Homo sapiens: one gene and its partners. The protein of the gene in region 1 purifies or fractionates together with the protein of each later gene. This does not show direct contact. Each region holds a gene or a part of one and is shown in the gene's direction. Other genes may lie near its edges.

Region 1 (3,500 bases):
AGCTACCTGATATTTTGCAATGGATTAAAGAGCCAATTTTTGATCAAATAGGGCTCTGGGTAGGAAAGAAAATGAAAATGAAGAGCCAGCTTTCAGTGCTTATTGTTTGGAATTTTTGAGATTCCTTTAAGAAATTGTTTTCTAAAGACTGTCATGAACATTATCGAGTCCCCTAGTTTTTGAGTCTTAATGAATCTTAAGTGTTTCAGATGTTAGTTACTTTTTTAAGAGCACAGTAAGTGCAAAGGTAGTATAGAATAGTGGGAAGTTCTGGATTGACAGACATATATTCTGATTCCATCTGTGTCATTTATTGCTGTTGGGAATGTCACTTAACTTCTCTGGGCGTCAGTTTTCTCATATATACAATTAAGGGCCTATAGTCTTTGACCTCAAGTAGTTTCTCTAGCCTGATTCTGCAAATTTTTAATCATTTCTAATTATGTTATTTGGTATTCATCTCATATAGGTAGATGAACTTTTATTATTTAAAAGAAACAAGATTCTGTGTTGGGTTCTGCTTTTAGCTTATGGATTTTAGACATTGTCCAAAAGTGCTTCCGATGTTGAATGTATGTTGCAAGTGTTATGTAGAAAGAACATGCTTATGCTGTTGTAATTGGCTTAGTGTTGAAATCAAATTGGGTTTTACATTGGGAACTTCATAATTTAGTGTGAAGTCATGAGACTTGAGAATGGTTTGGGGGGAGTTTGTGCAATTTATATAGCTAGCTGTTTCTTACCACCTAATTCTGTAATTTTCTATGATGAATATATAGATAAATTTATAATCAGTGTAACATTGATTTAAGTTATAAGATGATATCAGATTCATACTGGATTGAACTAGAACTCCCAGTAACTTTAGAGGCTACCAAATTATTAACATGTCATTGCTATTTTTAATCTTAATTTTGTGATATCAATACTGATATGCTTTCATCTTTGCTTTTGTATCTAGAAACAATATACCTTTTAAGTTCATATTTGTATCAGATATTAAAAATGAAAATTGTAGCATGAAAGTGGGTAGATAGTAAATCTTGGGTTCAAGCCTGGGTTGTTATTCTTCATTACCCATGTTGTTTCTGGCAAGCTACATAACCCCCCTGAGCTCCAGTTCCCTCATTAGTGAAAGGAAGAAGAGCAACTTTTCTACTTTTCTAACAGACTGTGGATCAAACAATAGTGTATATGAAAAGCATTCTAAAAATGTAAGGGGCTGGTATTAGAATCGTATTGTATTAGAATCCTATTTTATGTCTTTGAAGAATTGGCTTGTGGAGCAGTGGTAAACCTAGTCTGTATTGTCAAGTGCAGAATTTACCAATATCACTGATATGGCAACAGAGAAGGTTTCTGCTTCTGTACTCTGGCTGGAGAAACCTTTCAGCACATGTATCCTGTCTGCCAGTCGGAATAGTCACAATGTTGCAGGGACTTCAGAGGAACCTGGGATGTCTCACATTTATGCCAAGGTCTCTACTTGGAATAGACTTGGCTAGATTTCACCCATTTTCTTATGTTGGAGCAGTGGTAGAAGGTGGTAGGAGCAAGGAGTTCAGCACATTCTGTGTAAAGTTCTAAGGCTGTGTTTTTAAGTAGCAGGTGGCAGTGTCATAGGGTAATGAAATCAATGTACTTATTTAAAAAAGCATTTTCAGAAAGAGAATATATCAGTACATTGCATAAAGTAAAAGTAAATATAGACACAGAGGTATTGTCTTGATGCTGATAGCTGCAGATATTCAGAATGATTCTGTTACAACAGATGGTAGCAAGCTTTTCTGATTTCACTTATCTGGGGTCTAAATCTAATTTCTTTAGTAGTTAATACTGTTTTGTTTTGTTTTTTTTTTTGGACACAGAATCTTGCTCTGTTTGCCCAGGCTAGAGTGCAGTGGCACGATCTCGGCTCACTGTAACCTCTGCCTCCCGGGTTCAAGATTTGGGAAACTTTTGTTTCTTTTTAAAAGATATTTTTATGTATGTATACTTGGTTGCCGTGTAAAATGTATTTTTTCTTTTTAAAAATTATAATTTTCATTTTTTGTAGAGACAGGGTTTTGCTACGTTGCCCAGGCTGGTCTTGAACTCCTGGGCTCAAAGGTAGTCCTCCTGCTTTGGCCTCCCAAAGTGCTGGGATTGTAGACATGAGCCACTGTGCCTGGCCTAAAAGGTTGTTTTTTTCTTTTGGGTTGTGATAAAACTTTGTCGTCGTTGTTTGGGGACATAGTACTTGGGCAATGTGGATAGAATGACTGTCTATAAAATAGTAAGGCATGAAACTAACGAAAACAAAAAGAAAATTGTGAAGGTGGGTTACCTTAAAGCTATTCTGTTAGTGGTGAAATACCTCATAGCTATGTTCTGAACTGTTGATTTAATGAACAAAGCACATGAACTTATGCTGTAATAATATTCTTAAGTACTCTTTTCCCTTAACATGGAGTATGGAGTACTTTAACCACAGAGGTATTGTCTTGATGCTGATAACTACGGATATTCAGAATGATTCTGTTATGACAGATGATAGCAAGCTTTTCTGATTTCACTTACCTGGGGTCGAAATCTAATTTCTTTATTAGTTAATACTTTTTTTTTTTTTTTTTTTTTTTGAGACAGAGTCTCGCTCTGTTGCCCAGGCTGGAGTGCAGTGGCGCGATCTCGGCTCACTGTAACCTCCGCCTCCTGGGTTCAAGTGATTCTCCCTGCCTCAGCCTCCCCAAGTCGTTAATACTTTTATAACTTAGTTGCAGAAGAGAAATATAAATTTATTTAGTTTTCAGAATTATTCATAGATTTATAATCTGGCAAAATATAAGGAAATTATAAGTATATTGATAAATCATGACATAACTGGCAAGAATTGGTATGAAGACAAGATGGTTATAACTTGAAATAGGGTTGTTATTTATTCTATGCCTATCATTTTTCCATGAGATAAACCAAATATTTAATTGTTTAGACTGATTCCACAAATGACATGGGAAGGCAGAGTGTTTATAAAGAGTTTTGGAAGTGATATAGGACACTATAATTTGGAGTTTTAACTTAATCTTATTTTAAATTTCAAAATGAAATTATTTCTGGTTATGAAAGCTACGGAACTTTTTTTTTTTTTTTTTTTTTTAGATGGCGTCTCGCTCTGTCACTCAGGCTGGAATGCAGTGGTGTGATCTCAGCTCACTGCAACCTCAGCCTCCTGGTTCTAGCAATTCTGCTGCCTTAGCCTCCTGAGTAGTTGGGATTACAGGTACCTGCCACCACGCCTGGCTAATTTTTGTATTTTTAGTAGAGACAGGGTTTCACCATGTTGGCCAGGCTGGTTTCGAACTCCTGACCTCAGGTGATCCGCCTGCCTTCGCCTCCCAAAGTGGTGGGATTACAGGCGTGAGCCACTGCACCTGGCCCAGAACGGTTTTAGTGTTTTTTAAAAAAAAAAGTAGAGATGACCTGTAATCCCATCTGGATGTAATGTTTGGTATTTTTGTTTTTTT
Region 2 (3,500 bases), on another chromosome or scaffold:
TTTTGTGATCTTTAGATAGCATGATTTCTATTTTAGAATTTATGTGCAGAAAAAATGAGTGTCTAACTTTTTTCTTGTTTATTTGTAGTACACTTATAAAAATGACTGAAAATAGTGAAATTGAAATTTAGGATTATTGTCATTTTCTTTTTTTGTTTTTAGTATGTGTACAATCAACAGTAGTGTACCTTTTGGGATGTAGAAATTAATGTTAATTGGTCATTATTCTTCTGTGAGAATGCTCAGATTTTCTGACTTTTGGATATTATTCCTGTGTATCAGAAGTGAGAATTTATCTGGTGATCGGTAAAGTGGTCTATTTTTGTGTTTTCAGATATGATTCATCAACTTCCACTGTTGACAGAAAAACAGTACATTGCAACAATTCACTCTCGTCTTCAGGACTCACAGCTTTGGAAACTGCCTGGGCTCCAAGCCACTGTTAGACTTGCCTGGGCGCTGGCATTGAGGGGAATATCCCAGCTACCTGATGTGACAGGTGAATTGATTGTAGGTAATTTTGTTATGAGAAACAGCATGTTAGCACTTAATGACATTTTTGGAAGGAGTATTATCTTTGACATACATAAGCATAAGCATAGGAAGATATCCAGAGTTGTATTAAATGAAACCTTTAGTGTAGTAGTGAAATACAGACTTTTTTCTCCTTGTCTCTCAAAAATATCATATGAAATACTATTTCCCATTCTTGGAGCCACTGACAATGCTCTTTTACCTTCAGGGTATGAGTTTAAAATTTGGAATGACAGTGTCACATTAATTTTTTTTTTTTTTGAGATGGAGTTTTGCTCTTGTTGCCCAGGCTGGAGTGCAATGGCACAGTCTCGGCTCACTGCAACCTCTGCCCCCCGGGTTCAAGCGATTCTCCTGCCTCAGCCTCCCAAGTAGCTGGGATTACAGGCATGCGCCACCACACCTGGCTAATTGTGTATTTTTAGTAGAAATGGGGTTTCTCCATGTTGGTCAGGCTGGTCTTGAACTCCCGACCTCAGGTGATCCGACTGCCTTGGCCTCCCAAAGTGCTGGGATTGCAACACGTGAGCCACCCCGTCCGGCCTTAAATGTTTTTTAAAATTAAAATATACTATTCCTTTTATTTTTATATATTTTACTTCTTGATTTGTTCACAAACTAGTTTTTCACATTGTGTCAAATTAAAAACAGTTATTTTTCCATACAGTGTATTAAAAAGGAGATATTTGGATCAGTCAAGAACAGATGTGGAATCCCGACTTTTCTTTTTTGTGGCCCAGGCTGGAGTGCAGTGGCTCGATCCCGGCTCACTGCAACCTCCACCTACTGGGTTCAAGTGATTCTCCTGCCTCAGCTTCTTAAGTAATTGGACTACAGGCACACGCCACCACACCCGGCTAATCTTTTGTATTTTTAGTAGAAACAGGGTTTCACCATGTTGGCTGGGCTGGTCTCGAACTCCTGAGCTCAGGTGATCCACTTGCTTTGGCCTCCCAGAGTGTTGGGTTTACAGGTGTGAGCCACCGCGCCTGACCAGAATACTGACTTTTAACAACCTGTTAACTCACTGTAGCATATATTATTCTGCTATTTACATTTACATTATTTAATTGTCATATTAGTAGGGGTTTATTCTAACAGAATGAGAACCATACATGGAACACGAAGCCCAAAGAATTGTCTTTTTATGGTAAATCTAGAAAGGCTTTATTCAAGTTTACAATTTATGTCAGTTTTCTAATCCTAAAGTATCAACAGATTCTAGTATCTTATCAATCGTGTAATTCCAGAACATTTTGTTTTCACTAGTGTCATGCTGTTCCCAAGGTGTTTGCAGAAAGCTTTTTTTGTGTTAGGAGTCTTTCTTTGGCCAGTTAATTTCTATCTGTCTGTCATCTATATATCTAAATGCTGATAGCGAATTAGACTTTTACATTCCCGTACAAATTCTGTTTCTCACCTGTACGTACCCTCATCATTTATAAGTCTTATTTCACTACTTTTCTGACATAAAGTTACCCTTTAACCTTTGAAGTGGCTATGTGATAGTTAATATCTTCTTTTTTTATTTTGGAGATGGAGTCTCGTTCTGTTGCCCAGACTGGAATGCAGTGGCATGATCTCAGGTCACTGCAACCTCTGCCTCCTGGGTTCAAGCAATTCTGCCTCAGCCTCCGGAGTACCTGGGACTATAGTCGCACGCCGCCACACCCAGCTAAGTTTTTGTATTTTAGTAGAGACAGGGTTTCACCGGGTTGCCTAGGCTGGTCTCGAACTCCGGAGCTCAGGCAATCTGCCTGCCTTGGCCTCCCAAAGTGCTGGGATTACAGGCGCGAGCCACCATGCCCAGGTGTGATAGTTAATATATTAACTATATAATATAGTTATACATAGATAGTTATTATAATATTATGTAATATGGTCACAATCTTATGCTATAATTGCCCATACCACTGCACTAGTTTTGAAAGGTTTAATAGAATATGCTATAGTTTGCTGTAGAATAATAGTAAAAATAGGTTAGGAATCACAGCCCTAGTTTCAAGTCCCAGATCTTTGGCTACTTAATCTCTTTGATTTTATATGCTCATATCCTTTTATAAGCTTTAATAGTTAGGGGTATTATAATTAGAATTTTTAAACTATAAAAATTTTTCTGTTAATTTGCATTTTAAAAATTGTTAGAAAAAATGACTAGCTTGTGTTATTTTGCAGAAATGGTCACTTCTTGAAATAATCCAGACAAGTTTTAACGAAGATCTCCAATTTGAAAAATTGGTTTCTGTTCTCTTCATAGACTTCTGAAACTTTTATCAAATGTTTTTATTATATTATTCTATAAAAGGCATGAAGCCAGGTGCAGTGCCTCATGCCTATAATCCCAGCATTTTGGGAGGCCAAGGTGGGAGGATTGCTTGAGCCCAGGAGTTCATGACAAACCTGGGCAATGTAGTGATACCTCATCTCTTCAAAAAATTAAAAATTAGCCCAGTGTGGTGACATGCCCTTGGCTGTAGTCCCAGCTACGCAGGAGGCTGAGGCAGGAGGATCACTTGAGCCCAGGAGAGAGGCTGTAGTGAGCTGAAATTGCTCCACTGCACTCCAGCCTGGGTGACAGAGTGAGATCACATCTCAAAAAAAATTAAAAAAACAAGCATCGGCCGGGTGTGGTGACTCACGCCTGTAATCCCAGCACTTTGGGAGGATGAGGCAGGTGGATCGCTTGAGGTCAGGAGTTCAAGACCAGACTGGCGAACGTGGTAAAAGCCCATCTCCACTAAAAACACAAAAAATTAGCCAAGCATGGTGGCGCGTGCCTGTAATCCCAGCTGCTTGGGAGACTGAGGCAGGAGAATTGCTTGAACCTAGTGGGCAGAGGTTGCAGTGAGCTGAGATCATGCCACTGCACTTTAGCCTGGGTGACAGAGTGAAACTCTGTTTCCAAAAAAAAAAAATCAACAAAAAAACCAAGCATTTTTGTAATTTCACTAAGCTTTACAGAATTT
Region 3 (3,500 bases), on another chromosome or scaffold:
TACTCTGGATATTTTTTTCCCTTTAGATTTTCAAAGAACACTTCAGTTCAGAAGTGACGATTTCAAATCTTCTGAATCTCTTTCAAAGAGCAGAACTTTCAAAGAATGGAGAATGGTATGTATTCATTTCTCCTCATACTATTTTGAATTGATGAAGTTCTTATATCAAGTTCTTTCTATTTCTTCTTCTTTTTTTTTTTAAGGCTTTGATTACATGACCCTTTTGTCGTGGTAGTAGAACAGATCTTACTGTAATACTCTCTTTCATTATACAGTTAATTAATTTGTGTTTGTGTGTGTTCATTATACTGTTCTCTATGTTTGGAATTTCTCTTAATAAAATGCAAAAGGAAGTATATAATGTATGATATTGCATTCTGGGAAGTAAGATGGGTAGGACTTTCTAATTTGCTGCTTTATGTAATTTTTACTTTATAATTAAAAACAAATACCAATGTGTTAAACAAATTAAAAAATAAGTTCAGAGACACATGATACCATCTGTGGTAAGTTTTTAATGAGCTCTGTTTATTTCATTTTTGGCACCAAAGCTTTTTGCAAGAAAAAGTAAGCAAGCTCCATAGAGGATGAGAGTGTGTCTTACGTGTTTTTGTATCTATCGTATGGGTAGATATCTATCATGTAGGATGTGCTTGGTTCATTTTTTTTGAGTGCCTGAGTGAACCTGATTTCCGGTAGAGTTGAGACATCTAGTGTGATATGTCTTATGTTATAGTTAACCTCTAGTGATTTCTCTAAGAAAAATTATTATTTTTTTTTTAAGATTAGACAGGATGAGCAGATTAAAAGTATTGTTGGCCAGGCACAGTGGCTCATGCCTGTAATCCCAGCACTTGTACAAAAAATAAATAAATAAAAATATTGTCACAGATAACTCTGTTATTGGCATGGATTTTAAGTGGTGTCTTAGTGTATCTGAATAATAGTTTTGGTCAGGAGACCAGGATATTGTCAGTTAAGCTGGAGTAATGTAATGATGAATTTTTGCCCAATTGAAGCCTTCCAATGTGTCTTTCAACCAAGTGTGCTTGCATGTCTTTTAGGTACGAGGTACTTAAGATAGCCGCTGACATATTAATTAAAGAAGAGATACTGAGTGAAAATGATCAGTTGTCAAATCAGGTGGTTGTATGTTTGCTGCCATTTATGGTTATCAATAATGATGATACGGAATCTGCTGAGATGAAAATTGCTATATATTTATCAAAATCAGGAATCTGCTCCCTGCACCCTCTATTAAGAGGCTGGGAAGAAGGTAAAAAATTCAGTTGTTTTTTTAGAAAAAGTGAACAGATAACACAAAAGAAAACAAGGAAAATTTAAAATTTATTGTTGGTCATGCTTATATGCCAGTAAGGTCTTTTAAAATTTTTGCCAAGATAAAAAGTATACAGTGAAAAGGAAGCCAATTCATAGACAAATTCAGAATCGGATACAAGGAAAAATAGAAAGCAAACCTTCATAAACAATAGTAAAATGTTTGCCTGAATTCTTCATGTGATTCTTTGAGTGTTGGTGACATAAGAGCTCTCTGCATTCGATTTTACTTTACAGCTCTTGAAAATGTAATTAAAAGCACAAAGCCAGGAAAACTAATCGGTGTAGCAAATCAGAAGATGATTGAGTTGTTGGCTGATAATATAAATTTAGGAGATCCTTCTTCAATGTTAAAGATGGTAAGTATGCTTTGAAAGTCCACCCCCTGGATTTCTTTCTCATACTCTTATTAAATTCTCAGCTTTTGCTTTACTAGATTTTTCTTAAAAAAAATTTCTTTTATTCTTGAGTACTTGGTTTTACTTTAAACGTTGCAGTGTTGTTTAATATATTCTGTGCAATGTTTGAAATCTTTTAACATTTTATATATTTTTTCAATGTGGATCCATATCACACCCATAAGAATAATATATCCTTTTTACCACCATTTTTTCTCATTCCCATTTAAAATATTAGTCTTTTTGTTGTTGTTGTTGTTAAAATAGCAAAATATAATCCCAAAGAGGAGAAAATTATCTTTGCCTTATTAAATAAACCTTTGTAAAGGATTAGATGTGTGATTTAAATACATTAACCAGTTGGCAAGTGCAATTATGTTCATTACAGTTTCTGAAATTATTCTTATAATTACTTAGAAATCAGTGCTTAGTACTTTATAAAGGCTTTCTGTTTGTCATCTCACTTTAAATGTAAAACACATAATACCTAGATAGACCTGAGTTGAAAAAATTGTTTTATGAAAATCAAGAGCAACTGGTAATAGAGTGTGTTTATTTTTCAAGGTGGAGGATTTAATAAGCGTGGGTGAGGAGGAGTCCTTTAACCTGAAGCAGAAAGTAACGTTTCATGTGATCCTGTCTGTGCTCGTCTCTTGTTGTTCATCTTTAAAAGAAACCCACTTTCCATTTGCGATAAGAGTCTTCAGTTTGTTGCAGAAAAAAATAAAGAAGCTTGAAAGTGTCATTACTGCAGTGGTAAGGAAAGCAGAATCTCCAGAAAGTGGGATGTTGAATAAAACAACAGCCTGGCCTATTAGTCACAGCAAAACTGAAAATCAGAGGCGAGATGTTGAGTCTGTGGATAGTAGCTGGATGAAATGTGAAGCAGTCTTGGGTAGCAGTGAGATAGTCAACTAGGCACTCCCTTGCTTTTGCGGAAAGTTTAGTTGAATTATAAAATTTTAGGGTTGCAATATTTTGTATCTGATGCCTGACTCTCCTCTCTTTTATTGTCTTTATTGGATAATTACCCAAGCTACACCTAACTACCTCTAGCGATGAAGAATTCACTTGGTGTGTTAGTGCTTGAACAAAATACTATTTCATTCAATTGTTTACTAAAAATAGATCTTTTAGGCTTTAAATAATTTTAATATTACATAGATGTGTATCCCTCCAGCCTACTACTGTCTTTCATAGTATTACTAAAGGACATGTTTCAGCTGTTTACATTTGACATGTTTTGAGGTAGCAAGACTTTTTTTTTAATATCTGCTATATGTAAGGATTTTGTTTTTATTTGTCCTCCAAATTTTAGAGGGCTTCTCATTATAGGATTTACTAAATGAATTATATCTTTTTCACATTTACGTATACCCGCAGGATTTTATAAGTTCTGATCATGGCCATTGTTAGCTAAAATGTGTAAACTTTAAAAAGAGTAAAATCTTCATATTTTGAAAAATAGTCCAGATAGGCCCTTCTTAACTTTTAGTTTCTTGGTGTCTTTTGTGAAGTATGATGACCTGAACTATACTGGTTCTCAGTGTTAAAAGTATGGACAAATAGAGTGTTTTATTATACATATGTAGATAACAGGTTATTTTATATTGCTTTACTTTTAATACCTTTCTCGAGGTCATGAGCATGTTTTCGCCTGTAGCAGCACGTTGAGTTAATCAAATCCCTCACTGGAGACGTTACATTGTAAATCTGGCTTTGGATTATTTTCCTTCTAAGTTATTACTCTGTACTGCTTGTACA
Region 4 (3,500 bases), on another chromosome or scaffold:
TTGTCAAAAGATAACCGTCAAAAGGATTCATGTCCGGGTTTCATCACTGTGTAGTCCCATACTGTTTATCACTCCATCACAATTTGAAGGCTGTCTGAAATATCCATGAACTCCACTGGTAATTCATGGAGTTCAACTCTCTTAACCACCCTCCTCCCTGACCCATGATTTTTACCCTAACAGCCATGAGAGTTTCCAAAAATGTTATGTTTTACTTTTCTAGTGTATGTCAAAAGACATTTTGTACTGTTTTAAAATTACTATTCTTGCTATTCAAAGAATAAAAAGTATTGTTTTTCAGATGATGGGTGGATCATGCTATAAAATGGTAACAAAGTTTTGGAAATAATAGCTTTAGATTATTCCAAAAAGAAAAAAAAGAAAGCCTTTCTTGAGTATAAATTGTTTTTATGAGTTCAAGGTTACATTGGCCTCATCTTAATAATTAGCGATGATTCAGATATTTTGGAATAGCTTTATATTTTTATTTATTTTTCTTTTTGAGACAGAGTGCCACTAATATTGCCCAGGCTGGTCTCTTAACTACTGGCCTCAAGCGGTCTTCCCACCTCAGCCTCCTGAGAAGCTGGGATTACAGGTGCACACTACCAAGCGCGGCTTAGAATAGCTTTTTAGAAAACCTAAACTTTTTATGTTCTGCAACTCTCCTCATATTGAAACGTTCATGTCCAACTGTTTTTCACCTTTTCTAATGAAAGTATTCTCCAAAGAACAAATTGGAATGCTTCCAATTATAGTTGTTCCCCCTTATCCTAGGGGGACACATTGCAAGACTCCCCAATGAATCCCTGAAACTGAAGTCTGTATACACTGCCGAAGCCTAAGTATACCATGTTTTTTAGATCTAATAACCAAGATGGGCTGATAGCGTATACAGCATGGATACACTGGACAAAGGGATGATTCACGTCCTAGGCAGGAGGGGGCAAACTTTCATTTTGCTACTCAGAACATGCTCTTGCCCCATTTAAAACTTAGGAATTGGCCAGGTGCAGTGGTTCATGCCTAATCCCAGCACTTTGGGAGACTGAGGTGGGCGGATTACTTGAGGCCAGGAGTTTGAGACCAGCCTGGCCAACATGGTGAAACCCCGTCTCTACCAAAAATTAAAAATTAGCCGGGCGTGGTGGCACGTGCCTATAATCCCAGCTACTTGAGAGGCTCAGGTAGGAGAATCACTTAAACCTGGGAGGCGGAGGTTGCAGTGAGTCAAGATCACACTACTGCACTTTAGCCTGGGTGGCAGAGCGAGACTCCATCTCAAAAACAAAACAAAAAACTTACGAATTATTTATTTCTGGAATTTTTCATTTAATATGTTCGGACCTTAGGTAATTAAAACCACAGATAAGGGGGGATCACCCTAACATGAACGCTGTTTATTCTAGGAATGGAGAGCTGGTCACTTTACTAAGACAGTGCCGTAGAACAGAACTTGTTACTAATTCCTATGCTTAGGGCTTTGTTTTTTAATCACAAGATTCTAGCACCTCCCCTATCTTCCAGACTTGGATTTTGAACTTTAAAATTTTGAAGTAGTGTTGTGAATCAGTTGAATATTATTAACTTGTAGAATAATTTATGTAATTCCATGACTAGGTAACTGTATAATTCTGAAAACCTGAACAGTCAAGGCCATTTGGTTCACTTTGATTCTCAACTCCAGAATTAATATGAACTTTGATACAGAATCATTTTCTATTTCAGAAAGGCTAACCCTGTTTAAAAAGCATGTTAGCCTTACAACTTACCGTATATTTTCTACACTGTTAGTCCTAAAAATTTTATTGTGTGATGTGATTGACGTTAAACCTTAACATGGGAATGGGTTGTATGTGGGTTTTTTTGTTTTTTTGTTTTTGAGACGGAGTTTGCACTGTCACCCAGGCTGGAGTGCAGTGGCTTGATCTCAGCTCACTGCAAGCTCCGCCTCCTGGGTTCGCGCCATTCTCTTGCCTCAGCCTCCTGAGTAGCTGGGACTACAGGTGCCCACCATTATGCCTGGCTAATTTTTTGTATTTTTAGTAGAGACGGGGTTTCACCTTGTTAGCCAGGATGGTCTCAATCTCCTGACTTCGTGATCCGCCCTCCTCGGCCTCCCAAAGTGCTGGGATTACAGGCGTGAGCCACCGCGCCCGGCCATGTTTTTTGATATTCTGAATAAAAAGGATATAGCAGTTGGGATAGGCTTGGGTTCTTGTCCTTTATGTTCTTGTCCTTTCCTCATGATAATCAAATCATAATTAGAAATAAGATGCTAAGAATACAAAGGTGGCTCTATGTTAATACTGTATTGATAGGTCAAAGGAGAAAAAGCATGAGATCAATTCATTAGATACTGAAAAGTCTTTTGAGGGAATTTAATGTCTTCTTGCTTTCTTTATTAACAGAATAGGAATAAATAATAGCATAGGCATAAATTAAAAATAATGTAATTTTTTAAAATCTCAAACTAAAAATGGGAATCATACTTAAACATTAGCATTCCCAGGAGAGTTGGAGCAAGACCTCTGTGCCCACTATCACTCAACATTTCATTATTTAAGTCCTAGCAAGTGCAAAACAGAAAAGATGCATAAATATTAGAGAAGGAAAGTTATTTTTTGCAAATGGCGTATTTTTTATCTGGAAATACCAGAGAATCAAGTGAGAAACTTTGAAGAATAAAATAATTCAGTAATGATGCTTCCTACCCTAGGTTAATTAATATAAAGAAGAGTTAAATTCCTATGGCATATTTCTGGTAACAAAAACATCACTAAACTTTTAAATAAAACCCAAAACACTTCTAGTATTAAACATTTAAATGAGCTGGGCGCAGTGGCTCACGCCTGTAATCCCAGCACTTTGGGAGGCCAAGGTGGGCGGATCACAAGGTCAAGAGATGGAGACCATCCTGGACAACATGGTGAAACCCCGTCTCTACTAAAAATACAAAAATTAGTGGGTGTAGTGGCCCGCACCTGTAGTCCCAGCTACTCAGGAGACTGAGGCACGAGAATCGCTTAAACTGAGGAGGCGGAGGTTACAGTGAACCAAGATCGCGCCACTGCACTCCAGTCTGGCGACAGAGCGAGACTCCATCTCAAAAAAAAAAAAAAATTTAAATGATTTCTACTAAAAATTTTAAAAATTAGCATGCCTATGGTCCCAGCTACTCAAAGGCTAAGGTGGGAGGATCCACTTGAGCCTGGGAGGTGGAGGTTGCAGTGAGCTGTGATCACACCACTGCACTCCAGCCTCGGTGACAGAGCAAGACCCTGTCTCAAAAAAAAATTGAATGAATGTGAGCTGTGTATACATTTAAGAAAGATTAATAAAAAGATAATTATTTGCCTCCCTCTTCCAGTTCAGGGTCTCAATGGCTGGAGCCTTTCTTGGCAATTCAGAGTCCAAGTTGGGAACCAGCCCTGAACTGGACGCCATCCCAGCACAGGGTGCTCTCACCTACACCCACGCTCACAGACTGGGCCGCGTAG
Region 5 (3,500 bases), on another chromosome or scaffold:
AAACCTTTCTTAACCGCAAATTATTAAATTATTATTTTTTAATTTTTGGAGATTTTTTCCCCCCTGGAGATGGAGTCTCGCTCTGTTGCCCAGGCTGGAGTCCAGTGGCATGATCTTGGCTCACTGCAACCTCCGCCTCCCAAGTTCAAGTGATTCTCCTGCCTCAGCCTCCCTAGTAGCTGGGATTACAAGCATGTGCCACCACACCTGGCTAATGTTTTTATTTCTAGTAGAGGCAAAGTTTCACCATTTTGGCTAGGCTGGTCTCAAACTCCTGACCTCAAGTGATCCACCCACCTTGGGCTTCCAAAGTGATGGGATCACAGACGTGAGCCACTGCACCCGGCATTAGCTGCAAATTATATAAAAATATAGATCAAGTATTTTATATGGCAGTTTTAATTTAGCATCTGCATTGTAATGTTGTATAAACACCATATTTCAAAGACAGTATGAAAACAATGTAAAATACCTCAGCTTTTCATTATGATTACATGTTGAAATTATAATTGATTTCACCTTGTTTTCTTTTAGTGTGAACAATAGAAAATTTTAAATTACTTATGTCACTTTTACTGTATTGCTGCTGGACAGTACTTTGAGCTAGATGTTCCTATGTGTTTACCATGTCTTAATTTCTTCCTGCGTCTCTGACTTTTCTTTTGGAATCTTTTAACTTTTACTTTAGCACACTCAGTAGAAGTTTCATAATGCAGACATTCTGATGGTCAGTTCTCTTAATTTTTTTGCTTTGTCTTAATTTTTTGTTTTGCCTTCAATCTTGAAGAATGTTTTGGGGGATATTACAGATTTGTGGTTGTTTTACTTGTACCTTGAAGATAACATTTCACTGTTTTTGGTTTTCATTATTGATTTTGAGAAATCAGCTGTCAATGCATTAGGTTGGTACAAAAGAAATTGTGGTTTGGGACAGCGAATTTTAAATCATTATAACGAGGCTCTAACATATCTTTATTAATTAAAATAGGTCATTACAATCAACACATTTTTGCCGACAAGAAATAAGTTTGTTTTTTCCTGTAATGTAAAAATCCATGCTTCAGGATTCCACAAACTCTTGGAAAGCTTTTTCCTGCATCCTGCTGGTTGTGGAAGCATTTTCCCTGAAAAAAGTTGTAGAGATGCTTGAAGGAGTGGTAGTCAGTTGAGAGGTCAGGTGAATATGGCAGATGAGGCAAAACTTTGTAGCCCAGTTCGTTCAACTTTTGAAGTGTTGGTTGTGCAGTGTGCGGTTGGGTGTTACTGTGGAGAATTGGGCCCTTTCTGTTGACCCATGCTGGCTGCAGGCATCACAGTTTTAAGTGCATCTCATTGATTTGCTGAGCATACTTCTCAGATGTAATGGTTTCTCCAGGATTCAGAAAGCTGTAGTGGATCAGACCGGCAGCAGACCAGCAAACAGTTACCATGGCCTTTTTTGGTGCAAGTTTGGCTTTGGGAAGTGCTTTGGAGCTTCTTCGCGGTCCAGCCACTGAGCTGGTCATTGCTTGTCATATAAAATCTAGTTTTTGTTGCACCTCACAGTCCGATTGAGAAATGGTTCGTTGTTGTGGAGAATAAGAGAAGACAACACTTCAAAACGGTGTTTTTTTAAATTTTTGCTCAGCTGGTGAGGCACCCACTTATCGAGCTTTTTCACCTTTTCAATTTGCTTCAAATACTGAACAACTGTGGAATGGTTGACGTTGAGTTCTTACGTTGAGTTCTTCAGCAACTTCTCATGTAATTGTAAGAGGATCAATCTGCTTCAATGATTGCTCTCAATTGGTTGTTGTCAACTTCCAGTGGCCTGCCACTACACTCCTCATCCTCAAGGCTCTGGTATCTTTTGCAAAACTTCTTGAACCACCACTGCACTGTACGTTCATTAGCAGTTCCTGGGCCAAATGCATTGTTGATATTGCAAGTTGTCTCTGCTGTTTTACGACCCACTTTGAACTTAAATAAGAAAATCACTCAACTTTGCTTTTTGTCTAGCATCATTTCCATAGTCCAAAATAAATATAAACAGCAAGTAATAAGTCATTAGCCAAAAAAAAAAAGCAAGAAATGCCCATTAAAATGACATATAACATAACCACATTTATTTAAGAATGTATTCCAGGCCGGGTGTGGTGGCTCACACCTGTAATCCCAGCACTTTGGGAGGCTGAGGTGGGCGGATCACGAGGTCAGGAGATCGATACCATCCTGGCTAACATGGTGAGACCCTGTCTCTACTAAAAATACAAAAAATTAGCCAGGCGTGGTGGCGGGTGCCTGTAGTCCCAGCTACTCAGAAGGCTGAGGCAGGAGAATGGTGTGAACCCTGGAGGCAGAGCTTGCAGTGAGCCGAGATCGCGCCACTGCAGCCCAGCCTGGGCAACAGAGAGAGACTCCATCTCAAAAAAAAAAAAAAAAAAAAAAAAATTCCAATATCAAATGGCAAATTCCAACAATGCAAAAACCACAATTAATTTTGTACCAACCTAATAATTCATGCTGCTTTGAAGGAAATCTCTCTTTTAGAATTTTTTTTTGTTTGTTTCTTTTTTTGGTTGTAATTTTTCTGCTGTTTCACTCTAATCTTTTTGTGTGGAATTCTTTTCTTCTTTTTTTTTTTTCTCCTAGTCAAGTGTGGTTGTGGGGGTAGAGGAAATGTTCAATCATCGTGTGGCATTCTTTATCTTGCCCTGTATTCATCGAGATTATTAGATCAATGCATCAGTATCTTTTTAAAGATATTGGTGATATTCTTACTGTTTCTGGTTACCTGCTGAAAATTACAATCTTGCTTTTATTGGCCTAGTATAGTTGCTCCTTAGTATCTGCTGGAAATTGGTTTCAGAACCCCGTGCAGATACCACAATCCACAGGCAGCTCAAATTCCTTATATAACATGCCATCATGTTTGCATACGGCCTACACACATCCTCCCACGTATTTTAAATAATCTCTAGATTGCTTATGGTACCTAATACAATGTAGATGCTATGTAAATATTGTTATACTGTCATGGCTTTTTAAAAATTTCTATTATTTTTTATAGTCGTGTTTTTAAAAATATACATGTATTTTTAATCCTTGGTTGAGTGAATCTGTGGCTATGAAGGGCCGACTATATTCATAGTTCATTTGTTGTTTGTTGAAGATAATTCCAGTTTCTAAATTTTCTAAGTCTGTGTCTGCTAGCTTATGATATTTTTTTCTTGTGTGCCTTGAGTACCAGTTGTATTTAAAAAATTATAGGAATATATGAGTCCTAGAATAATAGTATCTTTTTTAAGAAGGTACATTTTTCTAGGAAAGGTCTCTAGGAGTGCTTTCAGTCCCAAGTCACTATTCATGTTCAAGAGTTGGGATTCCTTCTGTTATACACATGACATTAAGGAAGACTTTAAGATCATGAATTCTATTTTCCTTCAATTTCCTCTTATCCTAATGATGTTGTCCTTAAACTCTGAACATAAATTGGGTAGTTTATCTGAGTCCCCAGCTTT
Region 6 (3,500 bases), on another chromosome or scaffold:
ACAATTCAGACTCCATTATGTATGTCCTCACAATGCAGGAGGTGAAATGTGTATGTCATGTGTCCAAATTGTAAGATACTTGCTGTAAGTAGCAAAAAGATGGGAAGGAAAGTCTACAGACCAAATCATATCTGAATCTCCCCATTCTCCCTCTCCACAAATATTGGTTTAGGAATTCTCCGAAGTTTGAAGGTTATGAATGGTTATCACTCAAGGATTCAGAACTAAGGTAAAAATACTGTGAATGATAGGGGGAAAAAATCACTAATTGAGGTCTAAATCAATATCCTTCAGCTCTCTAAGGAAATGTATTTTTAATATAATAGCTTTATTGAGACATTCATACACCATAAAGTCCAAATTTTACTTTTTATTTTATTTATTTGGTTTTTTTTTTTTTTGAGATGGAGTTTCACCCTTGTCACCCAGGCTGGAGTGCAATGGCATGATCTCGGCTCACTGCAACCTCCACCTCCTGGGTTCAAGCAATTCTCCTGCCTCAGCCTCTTGAGTAGCTGGGATTACAGTCGCGCACCACTACGCCCAGCTAACTTTTGTACTTTCAGTAGAGACAGCGTTTCACCATGTTGGTCAAGCTGGTCTCGAACTCCTGACCTCAGGTGATCCACTCGCCTGAGCCTCCCAAAGTGCTGGGATTACAGGCATGAGCCACCTCACCCAGCCTAAAGTTCAACCTTCTAAAGTGTACAATGGAGTGTTTAGTATATTCAGTGGGCTGCACATTCATCACTATCACCCTTTCCTCACCCTAAAAGAAAACTCCATACCTGCTAGCACTCACTGATTCCCCTACCCACCCCATGCCCAGGCACATGGCAAGCACCAATCTACTGTCTATGGATGTGCTGATTCTGGACATTTCCCATAAGTGGGACCAAAAAAATGTGTGGTCTTTTTGTCTGATTTCCTTCAGGCAGTCTAATGAGTTTAAGGTTCACTCATGTTGTTACATGTATCATTACTTTATTCTTTTATTGCGAAGTAATATTTCCTTGTATAGTTAGAAGACATTTTGTTTATCCATTCACCAGTGGATGGACAGTTGAATTGTTTCCACTTTTTGGCTGTGGTGAATAATGTTGCCATGAACATTCATGTACAAGTTTTTGTGTCAACATATGTTGTCTTTTCTCTTGCACATATACCTAGGAGTGAAATTACTGAGTCAAATGGTAACTCAGGCTGGAGTGCAATGGCACGATCTCGGCTCAACGCAACCTCTGCCTCCCAGGTTCAAGTGATTCTCATGCCTCAGCCTCTCGAGTAACTGGAATTACAGGCATGCGTCACCACACCCAGCTTATTCAGACTGTTTTCCAAATTGGCTGTAACATTTTATGTTCCTATTAGCAAAGTATGAGCGTTTGAATTTCTCCACATTCTTGTCAACACTTGCTGTTGCCTTTTTTATTAAAGCCATTTTATTGGGTATGAAGTGGTAACTTACATTGTGGTTTTGATTTGCATTTCTCTAATGATGAATGATGTTGCACATCTTTTCATGTGCTTATTGGCCATTTGTATATTTTCTCTGGAGAAATGTCTATTCAAATGTTTTACCCATTTTTTTAATTGGGTTGTCTTTTTTTAATTGAGAGTAGGGCTTTTTAAATATTCTGGATATAAGTCCCTTATAAGACATATGATTTGTGGCCAGGCGCAGTGGCTCACACCTGTAATCCCAGCACTTTGGGAGACCAAAGTGAGTGGATCACTTGAGGTCAGGAGTTCAAGACCAGCCTGGCCAACACGGCAAAACCCCATCTCTACTAAAAATACAAAAATTAGCTGGGCGTGGGGGCGCACACCTGTAATCCCAGCTAATCTGGAGGCTGAGGCAGGAGAATCACTTGAACCTGGGAGGCAGAGCCTGCAGTGAGCTGAGATCATGCCAATGCATTCCAGCCTGGGTGACAGAGTGAGACTTTGTCTCAAAAAATATACATTATTTGCATATATTTTCTCCCATTCTATGAGTTGTCTTTTCTCTTTCTTGATGGTGTCCTTAAAAGCACAAAGGTTTTAATTTTGTGAAGTTCAATGTATCCATTTTTCTCTTCTGCCTTTTGTGATTTTGATGTCATAGCTAAAAAATGATTGCCTACCCCAAAGCGATGAAGATTTAGTCCTATATTTTCTTGTAAGAATTTTATAGTTTTAGCTCTTACATTTAGTCTATGATCCACTTTGAAGTTTTTATGACGTGAAGTATGGGTCCAGCTTCATTCTAACGCATGTGGATATCAAGTTGTACCGGCAACAATCTTTCCACAGTGAACAGTCATGGCTCCTATATTAGCCAGGGTCCTCAAGAGAAAATGAACCAATAAGAAATAGATGGATGGGCACAGTGGCTCACACCTGTAATCCCAGCACTTTGGGGGGCCCAGGCAGGCAGATCACTTGAGGTCAGGAGTTCGAGACCAGCCTGGCCAACATGGTGAAACCCCTGTCTCTATTAAAAATACAAAAAATTAGCTGGGTATGGTGAGGCACATCCGTAGTCCCAGCTGCTCAGGAGGCTGAGGCACAAGAATCACTTGAGCCTGGGAGGCAGAGGTTGCAGTGAGCCAAGATTGTGCCACTGCACTCCAGCCTGGGTGACAGAGTGAAACTGTCTCAAAAAAAAAAAAAAGGTAGATAGATAGATTTATTTTAAGGAATCTGCTACATAATTATGAGAGATGGAAAGTTCAAATCCTGCAGGGCAGGCTAGCAGGCTGGAAATTCAGGTTTGAGTTGATGTTGTAGTCTTGAGTTTGAAATCTGAAGGGCAAACCAGCAGGTGGAGATTCGGGCAAGGTTTCTGTGCTGTGGTCTTGTAGCAGAATTGTTTCTTCCCCCAGAAACCTCCATCTTTGCTATTAAGGCCTTCAACTGATTAGATGAAGCCCACCCACCTTGTGGAGGGTAATTTGCTTTAGTTAAAGTCAACTGATTATAAATGTTAAATTGTATCCACAGATACTTTCCCAGCAACATCTAGACTGCTGTTTGACCAAACAACGGGGCTCCAACAGCCTAGCCAAGTGAAACATAAAACTAACCATCACAGTATCCTTGTCAAAAATCAGTCTGACAACACATGTAAGGTTTATTTCTGGAGTCACTATTCAATTCCATTGATCTATATGTCTGTCCTTATGCCGGTAACACTTGTGTCTTAATTATTATAGCTTTTTTTTTTTTTTTTGAGACGGAGTCTAGCTCTGTCACCAGGCTAGAGTGCAGTGGTGGAATCTCAGCTCACTGCAATCTCCGCCTCCTGGGTTCAAGCAATTCCCTTGCCTCAGCCTCCCAAGTAGCTGGGACTACAGGCATGCACCCTCACGCCCGGCTAATTTTTTGTATTTTAGTACAGATGGGGTTTCACCATGTTGGCCAGGATGGTCTCGATCTTCTGACCTCATGATCTGCCCGCCTCAGCCTCCCAAAATGCTAGGATTATAGGTGTGAGCCACTGCACCCGGCCATTATTA

What was found.
Region 2: the proteins of MTMR3 (region 1) and NUP205 purify together in Homo sapiens (affinity purification with mass spectrometry, with the first as the bait; one large-scale study listed by BioGRID). This does not show direct contact.
Region 3: the proteins of MTMR3 (region 1) and HEATR1 purify together in Homo sapiens (affinity purification with mass spectrometry, with the first as the bait; one large-scale study listed by BioGRID). This does not show direct contact.
Region 4: the proteins of MTMR3 (region 1) and MAPK1IP1L purify together in Homo sapiens (affinity purification with mass spectrometry, with the first as the bait; one large-scale study listed by BioGRID). This does not show direct contact.
Region 5: the proteins of MTMR3 (region 1) and ORC4 purify together in Homo sapiens (affinity purification with mass spectrometry, with the first as the bait; one large-scale study listed by BioGRID). This does not show direct contact.
Region 6: the proteins of MTMR3 (region 1) and IPO5 purify together in Homo sapiens (affinity purification with mass spectrometry, with the first as the bait; one large-scale study listed by BioGRID). This does not show direct contact.

Annotation. Positions count from the first base shown.
Region 1 is NC_000022.11:29,886,174-29,889,673, forward strand, and holds part of MTMR3 (phosphatidylinositol-3,5-bisphosphate 3-phosphatase MTMR3), read left to right. Parts: intron 1-3,500. UniProt on the Homo sapiens protein: Lipid phosphatase that specifically dephosphorylates the D-3 position of phosphatidylinositol 3-phosphate and phosphatidylinositol 3,5-bisphosphate, generating phosphatidylinositol and phosphatidylinositol 5-phosphate.
Region 2 is NC_000007.14:135,578,417-135,581,916, forward strand, and holds part of NUP205 (nuclear pore complex protein Nup205), read left to right. Parts: intron 1-334; coding exon 335-499; exon of another isoform or gene 500-510; intron 511-3,500. UniProt on the Homo sapiens protein: Plays a role in the nuclear pore complex (NPC) assembly and/or maintenance. May anchor NUP62 and other nucleoporins, but not NUP153 and TPR, to the NPC.
Region 3 is NC_000001.11:236,584,017-236,587,516, reverse strand, and holds part of HEATR1 (HEAT repeat-containing protein 1), read left to right. Parts: intron 1-26; coding exon 27-115; intron 116-1,064; coding exon 1,065-1,276; intron 1,277-1,575; coding exon 1,576-1,697; intron 1,698-2,300; coding exon 2,301-2,492; intron 2,493-3,500. UniProt on the Homo sapiens protein: Ribosome biogenesis factor; required for recruitment of Myc to nucleoli. Involved in nucleolar processing of pre-18S ribosomal RNA. Required for optimal pre-ribosomal RNA transcription by RNA polymerase I.
Region 4 is NC_000014.9:55,054,647-55,058,146, forward strand, and holds part of MAPK1IP1L (MAPK-interacting and spindle-stabilizing protein-like), read left to right. Parts: intron 1-3,500.
Region 5 is NC_000002.12:148,014,238-148,017,737, reverse strand, and holds part of ORC4 (origin recognition complex subunit 4), read left to right. Parts: intron 1-3,500. UniProt on the Homo sapiens protein: Component of the origin recognition complex (ORC) that binds origins of replication. DNA-binding is ATP-dependent. The specific DNA sequences that define origins of replication have not been identified yet.
Region 6 is NC_000013.11:97,960,175-97,963,674, forward strand, and holds part of IPO5 (importin-5), read left to right. Parts: intron 1-172; exon of another isoform or gene 173-229; intron 230-2,985; exon of another isoform or gene 2,986-3,108; intron 3,109-3,500. UniProt on the Homo sapiens protein: Functions in nuclear protein import as nuclear transport receptor. Serves as receptor for nuclear localization signals (NLS) in cargo substrates.